Homo sapiens: one gene and its partners. The protein of the gene in region 1 interacts with the protein of each later gene in a pairwise test. Each region holds a gene or a part of one and is shown on either strand. Other genes may lie near its edges. The genes, in order: ZNF426, LONRF1, USP25 and KRT3.

Region 1 (7,838 bases):
TCAGTAGAGACAAGGTTTCACCATGTTGGCCAGGGTGGTCTCAAACTCCTGACCTCAAGTGATCCACCCACCTCAGCCTCTCAAAATGCTGGGATTACAGGAATTAAGTAATTTTCATGCAGCTTCTTCTCTCCAGAGTGAGTTCATTCATGTCTTTAAAGTGAACTGGAACAAATGAGAGCTTTCCCACATTTATTACATGGACAGTTTCTCACTAGTGAATTTGTTCATGTCTTCGAAGTGAACGGGGATGACTGTAAGCTTTCCCGCATTGCTGACATTTATAGGGTTTCTCTTCTGTGTGAGTTTTTTCATGAATTCTAAAGGAACTGGAACACGTGAAGGCTTTCCCACACTCCTTGCATTCATAGGGTTTCTCTCCAGTGTGAGTCCTTTCATGTATTTGAAATGAACTGGAATGACTGAAGGCCTTTCCACATTGTTTACACTCATAGGGTTTTTCTCCAGTGTGGATTCGCATGTGAATTTTAAGGTGGGTGGAATAGTTAAAAGCCTTCCCACATTCCTTACAGGTGTATGGTTTCTGGGCACTGTGCGTTCGCATGTGATTATTAAGACATGAGGGATACCCAAATACTTTCCCACATATCTTACACTCACAGGCCTTCTCTTCAGTGTGAGTTCTCAAATGTCCACTAAGATTTGAGGAAACTGCAAAGGCTTTCCCACATTCAACACATACAAAAGGCTTCTCTCCAGTGTGAGTTCTTATATGTTGAATAAGGCGTGAGGATGTAAGGAAGGATTTCCCACATTCCTTACATTCATAGGGCTTGTCTCCACTGTGAGATCGTACATGCATACTAAGGCCCGAGTACTGAGTGAAGGCTTTCCCACATTCCTTACATACATAGGGTTTCTCTCCAGTGTGAGTTCTTCCATGTATCTGAAATGAGTTGGAATAATTGAAGGCTTTCCCACATTCCTTACATTCATATGGTTTCTCCCCAGTGTGGGTTCGCATGTGAATACTGAGGTAGGCTGGGTATCTATAGCCTTTTCCACATTCCTTACATTTGTAGGGCTTTTTTGCATTGAGGGTTTCTATAAGCACAGAAAGGCTTGTAGAGTCAATAAAACCTGGCCCATAATTCCTCCATTCGTAGAGTTTTTCTCCATTGTGAGTTCTCATATGTGCCTGAAGGTATGACTCATTAATGAAGGATTTTCCACAGTGACTACATTCAAATGACTTTTCTTGTGTGCTAGTTCTCTGGTATACAATATTTGGTGTCAGGCTGAAGATTTTTTCACTCTGATTAAACTCAGAAAGTTTCTCACCAGTAGAGGTTTTCTCACACAGGGTAAGGAAATCTTTTCCATACTGATTACAGTCATGAGTGTTCCCTGTACTTTGAGTTCTCACGTGCGTCTTAAGGCATGAGTGTTCACTGAAGACTTCTCCACATTGCTCACAGTCACAGAGTTCCCTTCCATTGTGTTTTCCTTCCTGTTGAAGGGATGATGATGATTTAAGGATTTTTCTCAAACATATTAACAGAACATACCCATCTGAAGCTAGAAACATTATAATGGTGATTATAATTGATGCCATTTTTATTACATGCATTCAGGTCCTTCCCTGTAGATTTATTTTAAGTGGTATGACTTAACTCTTATTCTAGAATGTTGTGCCATCTACTTTAATCTTGGCTAGGCATGGTGTCTCATGCCTGTAATCCCAGCACTTTGGGAGTCCGATGGGGGGCAGATCACCTGAGGTCAGGAGTTCAAGACCAGCATGGCCAACATGGTGAAACCCTGTCTCTACTAAAAATACAAAAATTAGCTGGGCTTGGTGGCACATGCCTGTAATCCCAGCTACTTGGGAGGCTGAGACACAAGAATCGCTTGAACCTGGGAGGCGGAGGTTGCAGTGACCCAAGATCACACCACTGCACTCTAGCCTGGGCAACAAAGCGAGACTCCGTCTCAAAATAATAATAATAATAATAATAACAGATTTCTGTAGAATTCAATGTCTAGATGGGTGCAGTAGCTCACATTTGTAATCCCAGCATTTTGGGAGGCAAAGGTGGGTGGATCATTTGAACCCAGGAATTAGAGACCAGCCTGGGCAACATGGCAAAACTCCATCTCTATAAAAAATATCAAAAAATTAGCTGGGCATGGTGGTGTGTTCCTGTAGTCCCAACCACATAGGAGGCTGAGGTGGGAGGATCACTTGAGCCAAGGGGTCAAGGCTTCAGTGAGCCATGTTTGTGCCACTGCAATCCAGCCTGGGTGACACAGCAAGACCTTGTCTCGACCAAAAAAAAAAAATTCATAGTCTAAGCCAGATGTGGTGGCTCATGCCTGTACTCCCAGCACTTTTGTAAACTGAGGCAGAGGATCACTTGAGCACAGGAGTTTGAGACTAGCCTGGGAAACACAGTAAGACCCTGTCTCCACAAAATTTTGAAGAATTAGCTGGGTGTGGTGGTGCATGCCTGTAGTCCCAGCTACCAAGGGAGGCTGAGGTGGGAGGATCGCCTGAGCCCAGGAGGTCAAGACTATACTGAGCCATGATTGCACCACTGCACTCCAGCCTGGGTGACAGAGCAGTATCTCGTTTCAAAAAAACACCAAAACAAAACTCAACGTCTAGTTACACTTGTGGGAATGTGTGAAAGCTCCAAAGAAACAAGTTTCACAATTGGAGCATCCCTAAATTCTTTGCTCCCTCTCATGTGTATGCAACTTCTCTCAAATATCTCTTATTTTTGCTGACTTCCCATAACAGAATTCCTGATTTTCTCTGAGGGTGGAAAATAAAAAATATCCTATGCAAATCTTACCAATTGTATCCCAATGGATGTCTGACCCCTCAAAAAGTCCTGCTGAAGTATAGACCACTGGGTTTCAAGTCGCATTTCCCATCCTGAAATAAAACAGACAAACAAATAAAAGGACTCAAGCTAGGCACAGTGGCTCATGCCTGTAATCCCAGCACTTTGGGAGGCTAAGGCAGGTGGATCACTTGAGGTCAGGAGTTTGAGACCAGCCTGGCCAACATGGCAAAACCCCACCTCTACTAAAAATTCAAAAGCTAGCTGGGTGTGGTGGTGAGCACCTGCAATCCCAGCTACTCACGGGGCTCAGGCTGGAGAATCTCTTGAATCCAGGAGGCAGAGGTTGTAAGGAGCTCAGATCACACCACTGCACTCCAGCCTTGGCAACAAACAGAGTGAACCACAACAAGAACAAATGAAAGGATTTGGAGAAAGAAATGCAAAGAGTTCAAAACAATATGGCTTATTTCTATTTGTTTCAAATTAAACATGGCAAGAAAAAGCAGAAAGACATTTGGGGATTTGGGCTATATCAAAAATTTGGTTTTGATGTAAATGATCCAAAGGGGGAAAAATTGGCCAAGACAAGGACATGGGGTAAAACTTTTCGATCGTTTATTACAAATTGATGCTATGAAAATTAAAACTGATAGTGAATAGAGAGAATCAGGGAATGAAAGTAGGAAATTTCTGAAAAAAGAGCGTATATCTAAACAATTAACTTGGCCGGGCACGGTGGCTCATGCCTTTAATCCCAGCACTTTGGGAGGCCGAGGCAGGCAGATCACGAGGTCAGGATATTGAGATTATCCTGGCTAACACGGTGAAACCCCGTCTCTACTAAAGATATAAAAAAATTAGCCAGGCATGGTGGCAGGCACCTGTAGTCCCAGCTACTTGGGAGGCTGAGGCAGGAGAACGGCATAAACCCGGGAGGTGGAGCTTGCAGTGAGCTGAGATTGCACCATTGCACTCCAGCCTGGGCGACAGAGCAAGACTCCATCTCAAAAAACAAAACAAACAAACAAAAGCCACAATTAACTTAAAGAAATGTTCTAAGACCCCAGGTGGATGCCTGAATCATGGCTAGTTCTGAACCCTGTACATACTATGATTCTTCGATCTGGTAACTGAGATGACCGCTACGTGACTCACAGGTGGTGTACACAGTGTAGATACATTGGACAAAAGGATGATTCACACCCCAGGCAGGATGACATAAGGGTTCATCATACTACTGAGAATGGTGAGAAATTTAAAACTTATGTTTTGTTTATTTCTGGAAATTTTTCTTTTTTTCTTTTTTTTTTTTTTTTTTTTGTGGGGTGGGGGTCAGTGGCCAGGGTCTCACTCTATCACCCAGGCTGGAGTACAGTGGTGCAATCACATCTCACCACAGCCTTGACCTCCTAGTCTCAATCCATCCTCACAGCTCAGTCTCCTGAGTTACTGGGACAGCAGGTGCGTCCCACCACCCTCGGCTAATTTTTGTATTTTTTGTAGAAACAAGGTTCTCGGTATGTTGCCCAGGCTGGTCTTGAACTCCTGGGCTCAATGATTCACCCACCTAGGCCTCCCAATGTGTGGGGATTACAGGTGTGGGCCACCATGCCTGGCCGAGTTTCCCATTTAATATTTTTGGACCATGGTTGAATGCAGATAACTGAAACCGTGAAAAGTGAAATCACAGACAAGGGGGGACTGCTCTGTAAATAAAAGCGTGTGGGAAGTTAAATATTTCCTAACTTTCTCTAAACCTTGGGGTTTAGAGTGCAGGGAGAAAGTACATGTTAAAAAGTTTCCTAATTATGCTTTCAAACATACTGAACTTCTCATCAACCAGAGTTGTTCTTCATGAACACTCACCTTGGAGAACTCCTCCCTGAACTGTCCTTGACTCTTCTTGTTCCAACCAAGAGATTAGACTGGGTTTGATGATCTGACCTCCTGAGCACAGAGAAATACATTAATGGAAGAGGCTCATAAAAAAGATTACAAACCTTTCTGTGATTCAGGAACTACAGATCTAATGAAAGTGGTGAAGCTATTTCAAAAGGGCGAAAAATGCAAATAACAACTCTGACTGTGCCCCAAACAGTCTGGTTACTTCTGTCCCCTAAACCGAAATTCAGGCTTATGTACACATTTAAAAAGCACTGAGACTTTTATTCAAACACAAAATAATGGCCGAGTGTGGTGGCTCATGCCTGTAATCCCAGCACTTTGGGAGGCTGAGGCAGGTGGATCACTTGAGGTCAGGAGTTCGAGACCAGCCTGGCCAACATGGTGAAACCCCATCTCTTCTAAAAATACAAAAAAAAAAAAAAAATAGCTGGGTGTGGTGGCGCATGCCAGTAATCCCAGCTATTCGGGAGGCTGAGGCCCAAGAATCGCTTGAACCCAGGAGGCAGAGATTGCAGTGAGCTGAGATCATGCCAGTGCACTCCAGCCTGCGTGACAGAGTGAAACTGTCTCAAAACAAGAACAACAACAAATAAGGAATAAGGAAGTATAACAGAGATCTTCATTCTTCTGGGGAAACAACTACCCCAGTGTTTTTTAAAACATTATTGTGCATCAGAGTCATCCAGAGAACTTGTTCAAACACAGATTATTGGGCTTCAACTCCAGGTTTCTGGGTGGAGAAGGAAAATGTACATTTCTAACAGGCAGATGGTGTTGCTATTAATCTTGGACCACATTTTCAGAATGGTCACAGTAGATTAAAATCTATTTAGGACAGGGACTATGTCTCTGTTATTTCTCTTTGCATTCAGAGTTGACATTGCCAATGCTGCAAAACAGTAAGTACAAAACATATCAGTTCCATAGAAGGCTGCAAGGGATGAGGCCAGTCTTACCTACTGTGGCCAGGTTCTTGTAGTTCTCCAGCATCACGTCACTGTAGAGGCTTCTCTGAGTTGAGTCCAGTAAAGTCCACTCCTCCTGGGTGAAGTCCACAGCCACATCGTCAAAGGTCACTGAATCCTAAAGCATCACACACATGCTGGTTGGAGCCAAGTAACAAGCCCATCAGCGTTCGCTGGAGGATGAGGAAGGGGGACCCAATGCCTATGCAGGATTCCAAGGGCTGCAGTGACCAGCCCCAGGTTTTAAGGGTCCTAGAAACTCCTCGCACCCTAAACATACTCACTGTCATCTCCTCCACTCATAGTGCATTAATGGCACTTCTTGAATATGAATTTATCTCAGCACAACCAGACTAGGAGATCTCTTTTTTTTTTGAAATGGACTCTTACTCTGTTGCCCAGGCTGGAGTGCACTGGTGCAATCTTGGCTCACTGCAACCTCCACCTCCCAGGTTCAAGCAACTCTCCTGCTTCAGCCTCCTGAGTAGCTGAAATTACAGGCACACGCCACCATGCCCGGCTAATTTTTTGTATTTTTAGTAGAGATAGGGTTTCAGCATACTGGCTAGGTTGGTCTCGAACTCCTGACCTCATGATCCGCCCCCTTCAGCCTCCCAAAGTGCTGGGATTACAGGCATGAGCCACTGTGCCCGCCCAAGATCTCATCTTATTTCCATCTATTTGAGCGCATTGCTCAGCACATTCCAGACATCTGATCAATGCTGATAAACAACTTAAAGGACACTTTTTTTTTTAATTTTTTTGAGACGGAGTCTTGCTGTGTTGCCCAGGCTAGAGTGCAGTGGTGCAATCACAGCTCACTGCAGCCTCAACCTCCAGGGCTGAAGTGATCCTCCCACTTCAGCCTCCAAAGTAGCTGGGAGTCCAGTCATGTACCACTTTGCCCAGCTAATTTTTAAATTTTTTGTAGAGACGGGGTCTCACTATGTTGCTCAGGCTGATCTTGAACTCCTGTACTCAAGCAATCTGCCTGCCTCAGCCTCCTAAAGTGCTGGGATTATGGGTGTAAGCCACCATGCCCGGCCTGGGATGATTTCCAAGTTAGCACCTCCCTATATGGGTGGCCCCAACCCTTGGGGAAATTCAAATGGGGATTCAGTCCTTGAGTGACACTTTATTTGCTTTAAGAAGCCTGGAGACCGGAGCTTGCAGTGAGCCGAGAGCATAGCACTGCACTCCAGCCTGGCAACACAGCGAGACTCCCTCTCAAAAAAAAAAAAAAAAAAAGAAGTCTGGAGACAACTCTGCCTAGAGGGAAATGTGTCTACCTGGTGGATGCAAGTATGTCACTATGTATAAGAATACAGCTGCTTTTTACCTGATAACAATCTGTTAGGCAGTCAGCCACTATTCTTCCTGCTGGTGTCTTTTCTTCATGAAGGCAAACTGGGTCCCCAGAAAGATAATGTCCTGTAAGAAAATGAAGGCAAGAGAACCCCGAGCTGACCATAATCCCCACATCCACCTACCTAGAGGTCATTACCTCCTAGTATGAAATTCCCATATATTCCTGCAAAATCAGGAAAACACACATAAGGCCAGTTGCAGTGGCTCACATCTGTAATCCTAGTGCTCTGGGAGGTTGAGGTGGAAGGATTACTTTAGGCGAGAAGTTTGAGATCAGCCTGGGCAACACGGTGAGACCCCGTCTCTACAAAAAAATTTTAAAATGAGCCTGGTGTGGTAACACACACCTGTAGTCCCATCTCCTTGGGGAAGCTGAGGCAAGAAGATTGCTTAAGCCTAGGAGTTCGAGACTACCCTGGACAACACAGTGAACATAAACTCCCCATCTCTACAAAAAAATTTTTTTAATCAGCCAGGCATGGTGGCATGTGCCTGCAGTCCCAGGTACTTGGGAGGCAGAGGTGGGAGGATTGCTTGAGCCCAACAGTTTGAGGCTGCAGTGAGCTATGAATGCACCACTGCACTCCAGCCTGGACAAAAGAGCGAGACTTTGTATAAGAAAAAAAAAAAAAAGAAAAGAAAGAAAATGCAAACATACAACCTACTACCATACAATGCCAGAGCAGTCCTAAACGTGATGATGAGCTGTGCTGCCCATCAGGAAAAGTACAATAGTCTCATTTCACACATAAGGAAACATATACCCAGAGCATGGGACTCTATCATG
Region 2 (3,959 bases), on another chromosome or scaffold:
AAAGAACTCAGGACTTGCTAAATGGTGAAACTGAAAGAACTATAACACAAACAGGGCTGAAACACATACCCCCCTTGCACCCCAACTCACCACATTGTGGGTGACAAGAAGAGCTACAGCTATTTGGGGAGTCCAGACCTAAAGGGTGCCTAAGCCAGGGCTGTGACACCCTCTTTGGAGCTCTGTGGTTCCTGGCATCTCCAAGCTTCTGGGTGCCACAGTGTTCCCCTTGTCCAGATGTGGGTGCCTGCAGTGGAAGCCACGTGGTGCATCTGGTCCAGCTGCAACCTCGCATGAAGGTGCCCACCCCAACACAGCAGCTGGTGTGCCTGGCTGTGTGCAGTGTCTGGACCCTGCATGCACTTGCCCACACACCCCTCGCTGCTCCGTGCCTGGTTCGCTCTTGGCAGGTGGGGGATCTGGGCTGGTAGCAAAAGCCAAGCACGGCCTGCCAGGCTGAGTGGCCAGAACAAGCCCAGTGGGCATGAGCATTACTCAGGCAGAAGGCACCACCGGCCACAGACATTTCTGGCTGGCAAAGTGCCACCCCAAGGATCCTGTGACAGGAAAATCACTTGAGCCCAGGAGTTTGAGGCTGCAGCAAGTTATGATTGTGCTACTGCATTCCAGCCTTGGCCATAGAGCAAGATCCTGTCTCTAAAAAAAAAAAGATGATTGACTGACATTTGCAAAATCCTAGCTGAGGAACTGGGGGCAGAAACAGTCCAGTCTGTGTAACCAAGAGAAGTCTCAAATGGTGAGGCATCAAAGAAAGAATTTTAGCCTTACCCTAAAGGGACATGGATTTTTAAAAGGTTGAAAAATAGTGCTTTAGGGATGGTTCCGAGGCCTAAACCCTCAATAAATTGCTTTTTTTTTCTCAAAAAATAAAAATGGCCAAAGTTTTTGGAAACCATAGCATATATCTAATGCCACCAAACCATAAGCAAAACTCATCTGTTCTTTAACATATGCAGTTTGGTTCTTCTACTGACTTGTTTTTATAACACTGACCTACAATTTAAGAAAAAGTATTAGGAATTTAGCTTTTATTCAAAATTAAATAAGCAAAAGCAAAAATTTTAAGAAACTTTTACAAATTACTTACATAAAAGAAAGTTAATAAGGACAGTCACAAATTTGCAACAAATAATTACAAAAGTTTCTAGGGCAGCATGAATATAAACCATGTTGCAGCATGGTGATCTAACTGTGATATGAATAAGGCATAACTAACATTTGCACCGAGACCAGAATTAAAAACAAAAACAAACTTTAAAAGCTTAGTTCTATATTAAACTTCTTCTCTTTTCCCAGATCCTTAATGGGTTTATACTATGCATTTTTTTTTAAAACAAACACATCATGTCAAACTATAAATTACACAAATGGGCAGTTAATGTGAAAAGCCCCCTAAAATGTACAAACTAACTGGTACTGAATTGAGTTCTCCCTTTACCTTTATGTACAATTAAATGTAAACCATATTTTCACAGTTTTGAGTGTTTTATGAATAGATGCACAGTACCATGTCAGGTTTACAATTGTTCCTGAAAACTGGCTCTAGGTTCTGCATCCAATGCCTGTCGGCCACTGTGATGCAAGTATTTACATAAATAAGAAACTGTGTCATAGTCAATGGTCAAGACAGTTCAGCAAGAGCAGTGTTTCCAACAAAGAATGATCCTCAACACGATATTTTACATACTTGTGCAAATATAAGCATTAGGACAGATATATCTGAGGCAAATTCAATTTGCAAAAACTTGTATCGCTACTCTTGTAAACTTGGGCAATAAATGACCCTCGGCAAGTTCTGCTCTCTATGGCTTTTTTGTTTGTTTGTTTTAAAATTTTAAAGCCAGAGAAAATACACACACACTACCCAACCCCCACAAGCACACACGCACGCACACACACACACACACTCTCTCACAGACATAAAGAGTTCTTATTTCATTTTAGAGTATGGTACATAGTGCAACTTCACAATGTAGAGGTTCGACACACATTCAATGCGTGTTTTTCTGTGCAAGTTCTTAGTGGTCTAAATCCTAGTTGAAGGTATTCATTTGCAGAACCACATGATTCAGGAGGTCGAAGGAAAAAGAAAAGTTTCATTAAATTTCTGAAACCAGCACTAGATGTGCAAAGGCAGCAGACAATCTGGCCATCAATGCAGCCAGATTAGGGTCACTTTAAAGGGAGATCCAAAGAGTTAGTTACTTAGATTGGTCTCTAGAAAAATAGGTCAGTATATGCTGTATCTTGGTCAACCGTTCTTTCAAAGACTTCATTGACAAAACCGACAGCTGGTATCGTGGGTCTACAGGGAGAACTGCAAGAAGCCACCAACACCATGCAGGTCCATTAGGGGCTGCCTAAAAACAATGGACAGTTTATAGCATTAATAAAACAAGGATTTATGTAACAACAGTAGCAAACCACCAAAAAATTACTATTTATTGAGCACTTGTACTATGTGCCAGGTGCTATCTCCAATGTCCTTAACAATTATGCAAAGTATAAAATGGGAGAAACTGAAGCTCAGCAATGTAATGCAAATTGTCCAAGATCTCTTGGCTCTTATGTGGCAGAGCCGAGATTCAAATCTAGACCTGACTCCCCACAGTCAACACACGCTCTTTCCTCCTATTACACTAGCAAGGCTTCTCGACCTCAGGCTACTGACACTTTGAGCCAGATAATTCTTTGTTGCATGTGGCTGTCCTATGCACTAGAGCACATTCAGCAGCACCTCTGATCTCTATCCACCAGATGCCAGTAGCACCTTCCCATCCAGCTGTGACAGCCAAAAATGTCTCCAGGTAATGCCAAATATCCTGTGGGGGCAACATGCCCCTAGTTGACAGCCACTTTCTTGAGCTATAGATTTAAAGCATTAAGAAATGTTAATTGAGATTTAAAATTTCCTCAAAGTATTATGGAACCCTTGGAAAGACAGAAGAAAAAGGCCCCAGCTTCCAATGTTGTTCAAAAAAGAAACATATCTCCAGTGAAAAGGTCCTGGTAATGCTGTGAGGGCTGACTATTGGCTATTGAAACAACTAGAAATTTCCATAAAAGGACTTGTAAGCCACCTTCACTGAACCTTAAATTGCTATTTATCGGACTTAAAATATAAAGCTTCAGAATGACAAAAGGAGCTACGACATCAGTGCTGATCTCAGTAGGCCCCTCTAGAATCAGATTCGGTTTCTATATTTGTGTATTGTCCGCTGTCAACTAAGCATTGCTACCTCTTCATCTGCATTCCACAGACATTACAAACTGTCTTCTAAAATCCCCTCTGCCATAGGGTTCCAGGTTAGAGTTGGCCGATGAAAGGCACTCTTGTTGGGTGTGGAAGCTGGAAGAGAAGCCATTATCCTCTGAAGATTGTTGCAAAGTGTGGGCAGGAACTTTCCAGAGAGCTCCTGGAAACCCCTTTCTCCACTGCTGTAGACTGAGACAGTGGTGCAGACTTGCTGGGATTCCTAAGAATTATAGCCACTTCCCCACTAGTTCTTCAGAAGCACGCTGTTGGCTGTTTCTGATGCAGGATCTCTGGTGGCAGATTCCCTGACTTCTGTAGGTGACATCCCTGACCTTCACTCCCACAGCTCTCCCAACTACTATACAAAGTCTACATCCTACGTCAAACCCTTCATTCTGGGAAAATGACGGGTGGTTGCTTTTGCTTTCCTGCCCAAATCCTAACTCACACAACACTGCTAACAGAAAGCAGTGATACAGGACAGGATAATAAAAGGCAAGGGTGGTGAAGGTGATGGAAAAGTTATGCTGAATTTTTCTATAAGCTGTTTTGTTATTTAAAATTTCTTATTCAATATTGTTCTTATCAAAGCCCATTTCTGTGATGTTTAATCAGATTCAAGTAATCAGTTAAAACAAATAGATGGCAACTGATAATATGCTAAACAGAATGAATACTAAAT
Region 3 (7,838 bases), on another chromosome or scaffold:
CTTTAAAAAGACGGAATCTGAATAAGCTAAAGATATGCAAAGTTGATAGATTAAAAAGATGATTTTTGAAAAACTAAAAATGTATTTATTGTGTACATACTCATTGGCCTAATTGTTTATTTGAATAAAAAGCTTATAGTGGGCAGTTTTACATATAGCAAATGTGTCTACATCTTCAGAATTCTAAATTGACGGTTAACAAAATAGATTATATGATATACACCAGAAGTTAAAATGTAATGGAGTCCTTAAGTTTCTTCCCAAATCTTAATATCCTTTAACAACCATAGATTTTCTCCCATAAGACTTTTTAAAGATGCTATAGCCTTTTGAAAAACTTTGGTAGATTTTACTGTAAAATAGTAAGGGTACACAACACATACGGTGTGAAAATACAACTGAATGGGGAAAACTTGTCATGAATTTTGTTATAAATTTGTTATAAAAGTTTCCCCATTCAGATGAACTGTCACATTGTACATATTGCAAGCCCTTATTATTTTACAATAAGATTTGCCAAAATTTTAAAACAAAACATGTAAAGAAAAATTAGATTAAGATAATGTAAAGGTAAATTAAAATATATGTAAATAATTTTGACAATGATTACTAGCTCAAAATTTCACTTACTTGTATCATAGATTTGTCAGAGTACATTAATTCAATTGTTCGATGGATTCTGGATATGCTTTCCTGCAAATCTAAGGATATAAGGTGTCATTTAATGATTAACAGCAAATGTGTTTCTACTTATAAGATAAGGACTAATGTTTTTCCTACAAACATGTTAGAGGAATAGGAAAATTTTCCTAAAACTTTTCTTAAAAAACATTACCATTTGAAATCTGTAGAAAATGAATTATAGTTATTCTTAATAAAAGACACAGTACAAATGCATACTTTAAAAACAACACAAATATGATTTATCTAGAAAATGTGCAGAGCCAATAAAAGTGAATTTTGTTCAAATCTATAAAGGAGAGTTTCAATGAAAATGAAAGCTAAGCTTCCTTACATATTGCTATAACACAAGTAAACTTAAGAACAAAGTAAAACATGTTCACCACATATCTTGTACACACACATAACTGAATAAAAATCGACTATAATCACCAGTGAAAATAAAATTATGGCACTCCCATGACAATTATTTCTACTTCTAGTAGAAAATAATCCTACAAAATTGTTCAGATAGGGATGTTCACAGTCATATTGTCCACAATAATTTTTAAAAAAGAGATAACCTAAATATCTGTCAATAAGGAAACGGTTAGATTGTAACCACATCATATTGTGAAGCTGCTGAACCAATCAGGAAGAAACCTTGAAAAACTATAAAAGAAACTGGCTAACTTTAGAGTGGGGAAAGACCTGTCTTAAGCCTGTCAGAAAACTAGTAACCTTATAGGAAAAGATAAGATCCTCCCTGCCCAACACTTTAAAAAATCTACATTATAAAAAGAAAACAAAACCAACATAAAATCAAATGAAAAACTGGGAAAATAATATCTGCAGCATATGTGATATTATAGGTAAAGTGTTAATATCCACAATACATTAAACTTTCTATTAAGTAATAAGAAAAATACAAATAGCTCAATACTTAAAAAATGGGCAAATGTCACAAACAAGAAATTTACAGAACAATATAAATATCCAACTTCACTCGAAGCTAAGGGAATGCAAATCAAAACACTAAAATACCAGTTTTTCAATTGTGAAAAACTACTAAAAAGTGTCCAGGGCTAGGGAGGATACTGGGAGACAGGCTCTCTCACACAGTGGGAATGCAAACTGGTTTAATGTTTTGGAGTGACAATTTTAAAACAGTCGTCAAAATTTAAAATATACACACTCTGAACCAGAAATGGTGGACATAAGGAAACAACAGATATTGGGGCCTACATTAGGGTGGAGGGTGGGAGCAGGGTGAGGATGGAAAAACCACCTATCAGGTACTGTGCTTATTACCTGCATGATGAAATAATCTTACACCAAACCCCCAAGACATGTAATTTACCTTTATAGCAAACCTGCACATGTACCCCTGAACATAAAAAAGAACATATCCTACTTACAGAAGTGTATAAATATGTATATCGAAGACCAGCACTATTTAGGAAATATCAATATGGGAATTAAATGAATTACATCATACCCGTGTGTTGGAATATTACACAATAGTTTACAAAATAATGCTAACTGCTAACATCAATATGGATGAAAGAAAGAAAAAAAATATCCTGAGGAAAACCTTCTTTCCTGATCCATAGTATTACATATAAAAATCTTAACAGCCAGGCATGGTGGCTCACGCCTGTAATCCCAGCACTTTGGGAGGCTGAGGTGGGCGGATAACAAGGTCAAGAGATTGAGACCACCCTGGCCAACATGGTGAAACCCCATCTCTACTAAAAATACAAAAATTAGTTGGGTGTGGTGGCACACAACTGTAATCCCAGCTACTTGGGAGGCTGAGGCAGGAGAATCGCTTGAACCTGGGAGGCAGAGGCTGGAGTGAGCCCGAGTTCATGCCACTGCACTCCAGCCTGGTGACAGAGCGAGACTCCGTCTCAAAAAAGCTCTTCAAACTTAAAATGGCCAAAAGAGAACTCATCATATTTCTCTTTCCTCCCCTGAGTGGGAACCTCTTTGCCCACTGCTTTACCTTTTTTCCAAAATACATTCTATTTGGTTATTCATACCATTATGAACTGAGAGAATCATTCGATTCGTCCCTCTCTCTTACCTCTAGCCAATGACCCACATCTGTCAGTTGTCTCCAAAGAGTATTTTAAGTACATTCACTTCTTCCCTCCCTCAATGCCACTACTTAGGTGTCAAAAGCTTCCTAGCTTCCACTCCTCTGAATGTAATCTTTTAAAAACAACCTGCCATGAGGAGTAGAAAATTACCCAACGCCTAATATAGTGCTTCATCAACACTATTTGCTTGATTAATGTTTGTTAATGAGTTCAAATATTTTTAAAAATTCCCTCTTATTTGAAAAATACTAAAGAAAATCTTGACAGCTACTAATGCTGTTAGTCACCATCATACCTTATGTACTTCTTACTAAATTAGGGCCATTCTTTTTCAAATATTGTCTATAAAGAGTTAAGTTGGTCATATAATATCCAACAATCAATATTGTTCAATATAATTCCAACCATGTCACATAGTTCATTTTTTTCAAAAATCAATAAATCAGCATAAAATTGGGGAATGATAATAGGGAATTATATTTTCACATTTAAGGAAAAAAATGTAATAAAATCTACCATAATCCATTTTTTTAAGTACACTTTAACAGCAGCAAAGTAGGAAAGAGAAAAGTTCAGAATAACTTATTCTGAAAAAAAAGAAAAAATAGAATAGAAAAGAATAAAAGAGAGTTCCTTCCAAGAAAGGACAGATGGCAACTTGACACACACACACACACACACACACACACACACACACACACGCACACGCACACAAGTGCACACACCCCACCCAGAGCACTGTCCTTATTTTTCTTATTTTGCTGCATGCCAGTAAAAACTCTGTTACAGACTAGTAATGGGATCATAGATACTCATAAATCTGTTAGAGCTATTAAAAATTAAAATTCACATTTCTAATTCTTAAGCCCAAAGAAAATTTTTTAATCACCGGAACTCCCTGTGCAAACTTAGATTTAGTACCTAATTGATATGTACAAACATTGATATTGTATGACATTTCTCCAATGGAGTAACTGTGAATACCAGTTTGATATAAATTTAGAGCAGCAAACTAGAAAATCAGGCCATCTGCTATGTCATTAATCAGCTAAGCAATCCAGGGAAAATCTTTTGGTCCCTGTGAACCTGATATTGAGATTATAAAAATGGGGAGCCAAACTAGTTTATCTTAAAACCCTTTCTGGAAAAGAAAAATGACTATAATATTTAAATATAAAATCCAGACGTGATTTCCCTTCTCAATATTAACATTACACATATCCATCTGAGGTGACAGTAACCATGCTATGAGACACTTCTTACCTCTGGTGTCATTTTCTATTTCTGTCCTCCAGCGATGTAAACAACTTTCCAGCACAGAAAGTTCTTCCTCCGTTATGTGCCTTGGTGCCGGATGCATGGGCAAATCTGGAGGTATCCGGGACTGAGTAAATGGTTTGTGTATTACTGATCTCGATGAAATGGCAGCAACTGATGAAGGTGATGTGCTTGGCAGTTCTGAAGATAGGGCTCCCTGTTGTTCTGTTGTGCTGTATCAAAGCATAGAGTATTTCTTATTAACCTTTCAAGCTGAAACTCTTGACAAAGATCGTGCCAAACCCACAGTATTAAATTGGCTTGTAATTCAAAAGAAAAAATCTTAAAGAAATATGTGGATTGATCTAACATCCAAATGAGATTTTTAATACATAAGAACTAAATTATTATAAGATGAAGTTGTAGCTTTAGAGTTAAAACAGCTTAATCATATTTATTTCTAAAAAACAAGAAAATCTTACGCATGGTGATATTATTTTCCCTGGCTTATCAGCTTACATTACAGAAACAAATTCTAATTTGATAGTACTATTTTTATGGATCATAAAATGCTGAATCTTATATATGTACATACCAAAACATGCTAAAGTATAATTCTGAACTGAAAAAAAATGTGATTAAAATTTTAATCCATAACCATAAAATCTACTGAAATAATAAAAAAACTCCCAGAGGACATACAGTCTTCTAAGTGAATCTACTCTTAGGAGTTCACTGAAGTAAATCAAAGCATACATTTTATAGAAACTGTCTTTAAAGGCAGCAGTTACATTATTGTGTAATAAAGGTAACAACTGTCTCTTGCATCAGGATTACTTTTTACCTTGGTAATGTCTGTGATGGTATGGAACCACTAGGTGGGGAACTAGCGTCAATATCGTCAACAGGAGAAGTGCAAACAGGTTTACTTGAGGCAAATTCCAATGCATACTGAAGAACATCTACCAAGGGGAATCGTTTGGGACCGGAACCATAGCTTAAATATCTGTTAATCATAAAATGTACAAATGCTTTTATTTCTATATACAGCATATTTGGGCCTTTATTATTATTATAAAACGTGATACGATACTTCAATAAAACTTCCTCAGCAATAAAATTCATTTGCTTTAAAACGAAGATGGTAAAACTGAATATACACTTAAGAAAAACATTAAAAGTTCCCCAAAGACAGGAAACCAAGGCCGATTGGGACTGAATGTGAGTATATACTGTTATAATCTGTAAATGCTGTTCTAAATTGTAACTCAATAGGAAGATGAAAACTGACATCTCCTGAGACTGTTTTTATTTTTAGATCTGGCATCTGGTCTCATGATCAAGACAGTGATGTGTACTATCCTCCTATCTTTTACCACTAATCATGTTTCAATATGATTATTCATACTTTTTAAGAATAAAAATCATTAAAATACAATATACTATTTGATGTAAGAAGTTTTAGACTACTAATTTGAAAATTCCTAAAATAGGGGAATGCAGAGCAGATTGGGGTTTGCAAACTGAAATGACTTGTGACATTTCAGCCTTTAGATTTCTGTCTGGCCTGTAGAACATTTCTCAGTCCAGATTCTGACGTCTTTTAGAAATGATCCAAATCAATAGACAACAGTGAGGCCATACTCATACATGGTACCATCCACTGGTATGGAATGGCATTCATTCCCTGTACACACAGATTGCTCTCTAGGCTCCCGGCACATACCATCTTACACCTGACACAATTTCCTCCTTTACGAAGCTGCTGAGAAGACTTGGTAGGCAGCTGAGTTTGTATCCTGTTTTAAGGAGAAAAACTCAGATACCATTCATTTTAATGAAAATCTCAAGAGTAATCTTTAGTTTCATGCAAAAAGGAAGGTCAAAACTATATTCATTTAACTTTGTATCTATTTTCAGCAGTAGGAACATTACCTGTTGACAATGAGATATTTAATTTTAAACACTAGAATAATTTTTTAAAGTCTACTATAGATTTTTAGTTTCAAGCAAAACTCAAAACTATTCACACAATATTAACTACTCCTAAAATTATAAATCACTCAAAGCAAATTTGAAATTAAAAATCTAGTCACCAAATACATGGTTTCTGATAATTATCTCCTAATTTCATAAAAGTTAAAATACCTTTCTAGCCTTTGTTGTAATACCGTGAGGTAATCTTTCAGTCTCTTGATCTCTTCCCTCTTAATTCTTGTTATTTCTCTGTTTCTGTGCATGTATCTATCAGAAAAAGGTAATCATTAGCATTTCCGAATATCATGAAAGTAGATGCAATATGGCCAGATGCCAGCGTACCCGGCCTACCACTCTGGGACGCCAAGGCGGGAGGATCACCTGAGGTCAGGAGTTCAAGACCAGCCTGGCCAACATGGTGAAATCTCGTCTCTACTAAAATACAAAAATTAGCCAGCCACGATGGTGGGTGTCTGTAATCCCAGCTACTCGGGAAGCTGAGACAGGAGAATCATTTGAACCCAGGAGATGGTGTTTGCAGTGAGCCAAGATCGCACCACTGCACTCCAGCCTGGGCGACAGAGCAAGACTCTGTCTCAAAACAAAAAAGAAGGAAAGACAGAAAGATAGACAGAAAGACAGACAGAAAAAAACAAAAGAAAGAAAGACAGGAAAACAGGAAGACAGAAAGACAGGAAGACAGAGAGACAGAAAGAAAGACAGAAAGATAGATAGATACAATATTAAGTACAGACATCACCACAAAGCATCAATTCATTCAAAATTGTATAAGATGTAAGGTAGATAATACAAAATGGTATTTTTTAAAATTCTGAATTTTAAGATTACAAAATTCATCTTTTTTAAATTTCCTTATAACATTATTCCCAAAAACTATACTTTTCTAATACAAAGTAAATTTCATCTACCTTGACAAATGGTATTAGGTATATTATGCAAAAGTAGAAATTAATTCTAAGAAAATTATGCAGAATTTTCCTCTAAACAATATTTTCTCCCTTACTAAACTGTTTCAAACTAAGTCATGCAGTATATCAAACCATACCTGTCCAAATATAAAACTTGGGGAAATTCTAATTTGTTGTGAATTTTTTCTGGTCTTCCCAATGCCTGATTAAATTCAAATCTTGACAATTCAAATGTTAACACAGGTGGTAATTCAGTAAACCAATGCTGAAAGGAAATAAAACAATAACAAAAACTTTAATACCACCTTTGTTTTCTTCACTGCAATCTTAGGCACAGGATGTGGGCACTGACATTGTTATATGTATCACCACAATGCGGACCTGACAAGTAACTGGGTACACAGTTTAGTTAAAACTCAACCTCTTTCTAAAAGTTTTCCACACCTCTTGAAAATTCCAAGAGTGGGTATAATATATGATCAGGAAAAAAAGAAATCTCACAACTATCCTTCGAAAATAATTCTTTACATTAGAATTTCTAGCCCAAAGAAAAAGACACTGGTTAAAACCATGACTTAGTAGCTCAAGTCTTCTCTGTCTTCTTCAACGTGATGTTGAATGGCACTTATACTTAACCAAAGCATCAAAATCCTGTGATAAAATAACTTATGAGAGGGAGTACTCAAAAAAAAATTTATATCATAAATCGTCACAACTCTCATACTAAAAATGAAAAAATGGTGTTTTCCTGTTTTAGCTTTAGCTCCTCTGCTGGATTTCATACTAATTTATGAAAAAGACATATCACTAACAAAAAGTTAATACTTAGAGTAATTTACTTAAAATCTTTTAAAATAACTAGTGTTTAAAGAATTGAATGTCTCATTGCTATGAGCCAAATTCTGATAAT
Region 4 (4,771 bases), on another chromosome or scaffold:
AAGCCAGGATGACAAGAACTCTCATGGCTGGTGCACCTATTTTCAGGCCCCAAGTGCATGCACAGTGCTAGGTGCAGGAATGGGGGCCTCTGCAGGAAATGTTGGATTCAAGGAAGCTAACAGGTTTTCCTTGCTACTGAACTTCTTAGAAACTCTAATATGTGCTCCAAAAAGAAAAGATGTAATGGGCGTGGAGTCTTTTATTGCAGAGTGTCTCAATGGAATGGTGTTCCTGGGTCAGACTTTGACATAGGCTGCTCTGGGGCCTATTTCCATCCCTGGGCTTCCAGCAGCCCGCACTTTCCCGGAGCACCTTGATGGGGGAAAAGCTTTCACGATGTCAGCTGGAGTGAGAATCAACACCAAGGGAAGAAACCCTCTGTCCCCAAGGCCCTCTTAGTTCCCCCACATGAGAGAAGACAGGGAGGAGACAGATGTCTGCATGGGCCAGCCTTCACCACTAAGGACGGTAAGGGTACACAGGGTACAACAGCGTCGGGGAGCAGGACCTCTCCCTCCCCACGGTGCTCACAGAATAATGAACAACCGGATCCGCACCATGGACTGAGAAGACGAACTGCCTTTGTTTCAGAGGAAGAGTTCTCCAGCTGCTCTGTGGATCACAGAGCCCACATGGGAGAGGCAGAGGCAGGGAGGCCAGGGAGGTGACCAGGGAGCTCAGTGCCCTAAGGAGAAGGACATGGAGCGAATACTCAGAGGCCCGGAGTGAAACACAGTGCACTTTATTGGCGACAGACCGGAGGGGCGGAGGGGGCTGTGTGCTATATACATCAGAGCTGTAGTGAGCATCCCACCCAGGGAGGGGACTCCGGGGCAGCAGAAGGTGGCGGCCTAGGCCACACCTGGACAATCACAGGCACAGGCTGGAGCCGGAGAGAAGAGCCTGAAATTCTCGTGACTGGGCTTGGCCGGGGATCTGGAAGGAGGAGCAAGAGGCCACAAGCCTTCCAGCGCAGAGCCGCGTTCTTGGGGAGCATGGGGTGGCGCTGGGGGTGTTGCCAATATGGGGGCGTGGGGAGCGGAGGGGAGGCGCTGGAGTGGCTGCGATGCTGATGCGTGCTCTTTATCTGGAGTAGCGCTGGGAGGACTGGGAGGACTGGGAGAACTTGATGCTGCCGCCCCGGTTGCTGGCCGAGCTGAAGCCCCCGCCACTGACTCCATAGCGGGCGCCAGAGATGGAGCCAAAGCCGCTGCCACCGCTGAAACCGCTGCTGCCGCCGCCAAATCCACCGCCGATTCCACCGCCGCCTCCCCGGCCAAAGCCACTGCCTGAGCCGCCGCCCGCACTGAAGCCACCTCCTAAACCACCGCCCATGCCTCCGCCGTAACCTCCTCCATAGCCACCTGCGGAGGCGGAAGTCGTGCTGCTGCTGACCACGGCTGTGGGGGAGAGGACAGGACAGCGATCAGCGACGGCGCCCAGGCCAGCTGCTATGTTATTGTCAATGATCCACCGGGCCCACGACTATCCAGAGCTGATCAAGGCAGCTTTGCACAGGATGTTCACCACGAGCCGTTCCAAGGCCACTAGCTACTCACTCCCCTGCCGTTAAGCCATTATGAATTAGCCAGTGGTTCCTCCCACAGTACAGTCTTGATGACCCCCTTGGAGGGGATCTAGCGTCTGAATTTATCCTCCTATCAAGAGGCCCCCTGTTGGATATTCCACATTGGCCGTCGAAGCCTATTAAAAGTGCCCTGAACCCAGAACAATTACAAAAGCCAATCACTTCCCTCTCCTCTCCCAGAAAACCCCTCCAACTTCCGTAAAAATATGTTTAAATTAGTTGCTACTACCCTGGATTAGTGCAGATATTTCAGAATTAACTCTCATTTTCTTAGCTACTTTCGGTACTTACAGATGCTGACAGCACTCGGACACTCTCCAGACATCCTGTTTGAGAAAGCAAGAGAAAGTGGGCCCCGTCACAAAGCACATCACCAACAAGTCCACGGACCAAGGGCATGAATAGCAACCAGAGCTGAACAGAGAAGCCTGGCAAATCAGGTAAGCTTTCTCCACCCCTCTTTGGGCTGTAGCAAGGAGAGCCTGTGGGCACTGGTTGCATACGTGCCCTGGGAGGGAGTGGGCTGGTAGAGGCAAATGCTTCACCACAAGGCCTCTCTTTATACAGCAGGGCTCCATCCCCAGTTACTTGGTCACTTATCTGGCCCTTGGCCTATGACTTGAGCCAGGGGGTGTGGGAAGACGGGACTGGAGGCTCACCTGTACTCCTCGCCCTCCAGCAGCTTGCGGTAGGTGGCGATCTCCACGTCCAGGGCCAGCTTGACATTCATCAGCTCCTGGTAGTCACGTAGCAGCCGCGCCAGGTCATCCTTCGCCTGCTGTAGAGCAGCCTGCAGCTCTTGGAGCTTGGCATTGGCATCCTTGAGGGCCATCTCTCCATGCTGCTCGGCCTCGGCAATGGCCGTCTGCAGGTTGGCATTCTGGGGCAAGGGAGGTAGGAGGAATGAGCTCAGTAAGAGGGCCCCAGGCCCTTCCTGACATGCAATGGATTATCCCATCTTAAAGTCAGGGAACATTCCTCCTCCCCTAGTGCCTCCATCTTGTCTCCATTTGTGGAGATACTGCCCTGTGGGTCAGCCAGCCTGAGATGACCTCCAGACGTCTATTCCAGGGGAGGAGTCCTGAGATCCTAGCCCCTGCCCCTCAGCAATCATCCCAGGTGCCAGCATCCATGACCATCCCACCTGCTTCTTGACACCCTCGATCTCTGCCCGCAGCCTCTGGATCATTCTGTTGAGCTCTATGATCTCGCTCTTGGTATTTCTTAGGTCATCCCCATGCCTGCCAGCCGTGGTCTGCAGCTCCCCCAACTGCAGAACAGAAGGGAAGATGGGGTATTCCTGCAGCTTTGCTTGACTTGTTTCTACACCTCCAACATCACCCACCAAACCTTCAGAAGCTCAGTAAGGCATTTGCTAAAATGATACTGCATTGTGTTTCAGCAGGGAAACCCCCAAGGCAGCAGGAAAGAGAACATCTGGGTTGTTGTGGTAGAAGATTTTCCTACCCTGTAGTTCCTGAGCAAGTTGGAGTCAGTCCCACATAGCAGGCAACCATCTCCCCCAGGGGCAAGACTTTCTGCAACTGAACCACCATTAGAAGGATGACTTCAGAGGGTAAAACCAAAAGGCATTCACCCAGTGACCACTGGGAACTCACTACCCAGCTGTCCAATAGGCCATGGCCTCTCTGAAACCTCCAGTGGATCCCGTAAGAGGTGACTAGCACCCACCTTGGTCTGGTACAGGGCCTCAGCTTCGGCCTTGCTTCTCTGAGCGATATCCTCATACTGTGCACGAACTTCAGCAATGATGCTGTCCAGGTCCAGGGAGCGATTATTGTCCATGGACAGCACCACAGATGTGTCACTGATGTGGCTCTGCATCTGAGATAGCTCCTGTCAACACAGAGGGAGCTTGTTCACTTTTGGGGTCCCTGTAACAAGCACACAGGGCCCTGAAAGACTCTTGATCAACAGTCTCATTCACTGATTCCTTGCTCCACATGTGTATCAGCCACACCCTGTCCGCAGCCACTCAGAGAACCCCATGTCTGCAGCTTATCCTGTGGAATCCCTTCCAAGGGTCCTCATCTCCAGGCTCATTCCAGATGTCTTCTGGGGCCTATATACCAAAATGCACCAGCCTCAAATCTGGAAACACCTCACTCTCCCTCTGTCCCTTCTTAGTAGGTAACATCCTTACAGCGTCGTAGAGGGTCCTTAAGAAGTCGATCTCATCTATCAAGGCATCCACTTTGGCCTGAAGCTCCACCTTGTTCATATAGGCACTGTCCACATCCTGAGAAAAGAGGAAGATAAAGGCCTTATTCTCCCAATGAACAAACAGCAAACCACAACTGCAGCAAGAAAGAGCAGAGGGGACTGGTGCAGTGATGGTCCTTGTCTAAGACCAGTCTCCACTTGAACGGGCAATTTGTATCTCATTAGGATGGTCTAAGTTTAATCCTACTAAAAAACTAAAGACTGATGAACTAACTCTTTTAGGGATCTTCCAGACTAAGGTGCACCTGACTTCTGTTTATTGCTCCAAAGGCCTGAACTTGGCAGCTCTGTGGCAGTGGAGTGAGGAGATTCCCCCAACCCAGCCAGAAACCTGCAGCTGCAAGCCTCAGAAACCTCACACACAGCCCTTACCTTCTTCAGAGTCACAAATTCATTCTCAGCAGCTGTACGTTTATTGATTTCATCCTCATATCTGTGTGAATAAAAAAGAAACAGCTGAGTTTGGTTTTGAGGTCATCGTAAACACCATTGTTCCCTGGAACTCTGAAAGTTCATCTCTTCCCTCCCTCCATCCCTATCCTGCCCCTCTCAGATGAGCACATCCTCTTTACTATCTCCCTGTTAGTTGGGGGACCAACCAAGTCAATTTGCCCAGGCAAACTGTCTGGTTTTAGCACTAAAATTTCTGCATCCCAGGAAACCCCTCAGTCCCAGGCAAACCTCTGGATGGTTGATCACCATACCATGAGTTGTCCCAGAATCTTTCACATGCCAGAACCAGGATCTTCCCCAACCTGGCTCATGAGGAAATGCTTCCCCAACTCTAAACTCATCCGTTTTTTGTTTTTGTTTTTTTTTTAGACATAGTCTCGCTCTGTCACCGAGGCTGGAGTGCAGTGGTACAATCTTGACTCACTGCAACCTCCATTTCCAGGGTTCAAGAAATTCTGTTTCCTCAGCCACCCGACTATCTTGGA

The links.
Region 2: the proteins of ZNF426 (region 1) and LONRF1 interact in binary tests that used the Homo sapiens proteins (3 or more experiments, as listed by UniProt).
Region 3: the proteins of ZNF426 (region 1) and USP25 interact in binary tests that used the Homo sapiens proteins (3 or more experiments, as listed by UniProt).
Region 4: the proteins of ZNF426 (region 1) and KRT3 interact in binary tests that used the Homo sapiens proteins (3 or more experiments, as listed by UniProt).

What each region holds. Positions count from the first base shown.
Region 1 is NC_000019.10:9,528,166-9,536,003, forward strand, and holds part of ZNF426 (zinc finger protein 426), read right to left. Parts: intron 7,115-7,838; coding exon 7,023-7,114; intron 5,802-7,022; coding exon 5,675-5,801; intron 4,761-5,674; coding exon 4,680-4,760; intron 2,903-4,679; coding exon 2,820-2,902; intron 1,472-2,819; coding exon 215-1,471; 3' UTR 1-214. UniProt on the Homo sapiens protein: May be involved in transcriptional regulation.
Region 2 is NC_000008.11:12,720,874-12,724,832, forward strand, and holds the end of LONRF1 (LON peptidase N-terminal domain and RING finger protein 1), read right to left. Parts: intron 2,382-3,959; coding exon 2,223-2,381; 3' UTR 1,033-2,222; downstream 1-1,032.
Region 3 is NC_000021.9:15,823,394-15,831,231, reverse strand, and holds part of USP25 (ubiquitin carboxyl-terminal hydrolase 25), read right to left. Parts: intron 7,194-7,838; coding exon 7,066-7,193; intron 6,267-7,065; coding exon 6,171-6,266; intron 5,029-6,170; coding exon 4,867-5,028; intron 4,256-4,866; coding exon 4,029-4,255; intron 2,892-4,028; coding exon of another isoform or gene 2,881-2,891; exon of another isoform or gene 2,547-2,880; intron 702-2,546; coding exon 631-701; intron 1-630. UniProt on the Homo sapiens protein: Deubiquitinating enzyme that hydrolyzes ubiquitin moieties conjugated to substrates and thus, functions in various biological processes including inflammation and immune response.
Region 4 is NC_000012.12:52,788,958-52,793,728, forward strand, and holds the end of KRT3 (keratin, type II cytoskeletal 3), read right to left. Parts: intron 4,267-4,771; coding exon 4,206-4,266; intron 3,850-4,205; coding exon 3,754-3,849; intron 3,447-3,753; coding exon 3,282-3,446; intron 2,860-3,281; coding exon 2,734-2,859; intron 2,470-2,733; coding exon 2,249-2,469; intron 1,916-2,248; coding exon 1,881-1,915; intron 1,402-1,880; coding exon 1,085-1,401; 3' UTR 728-1,084; downstream 1-727.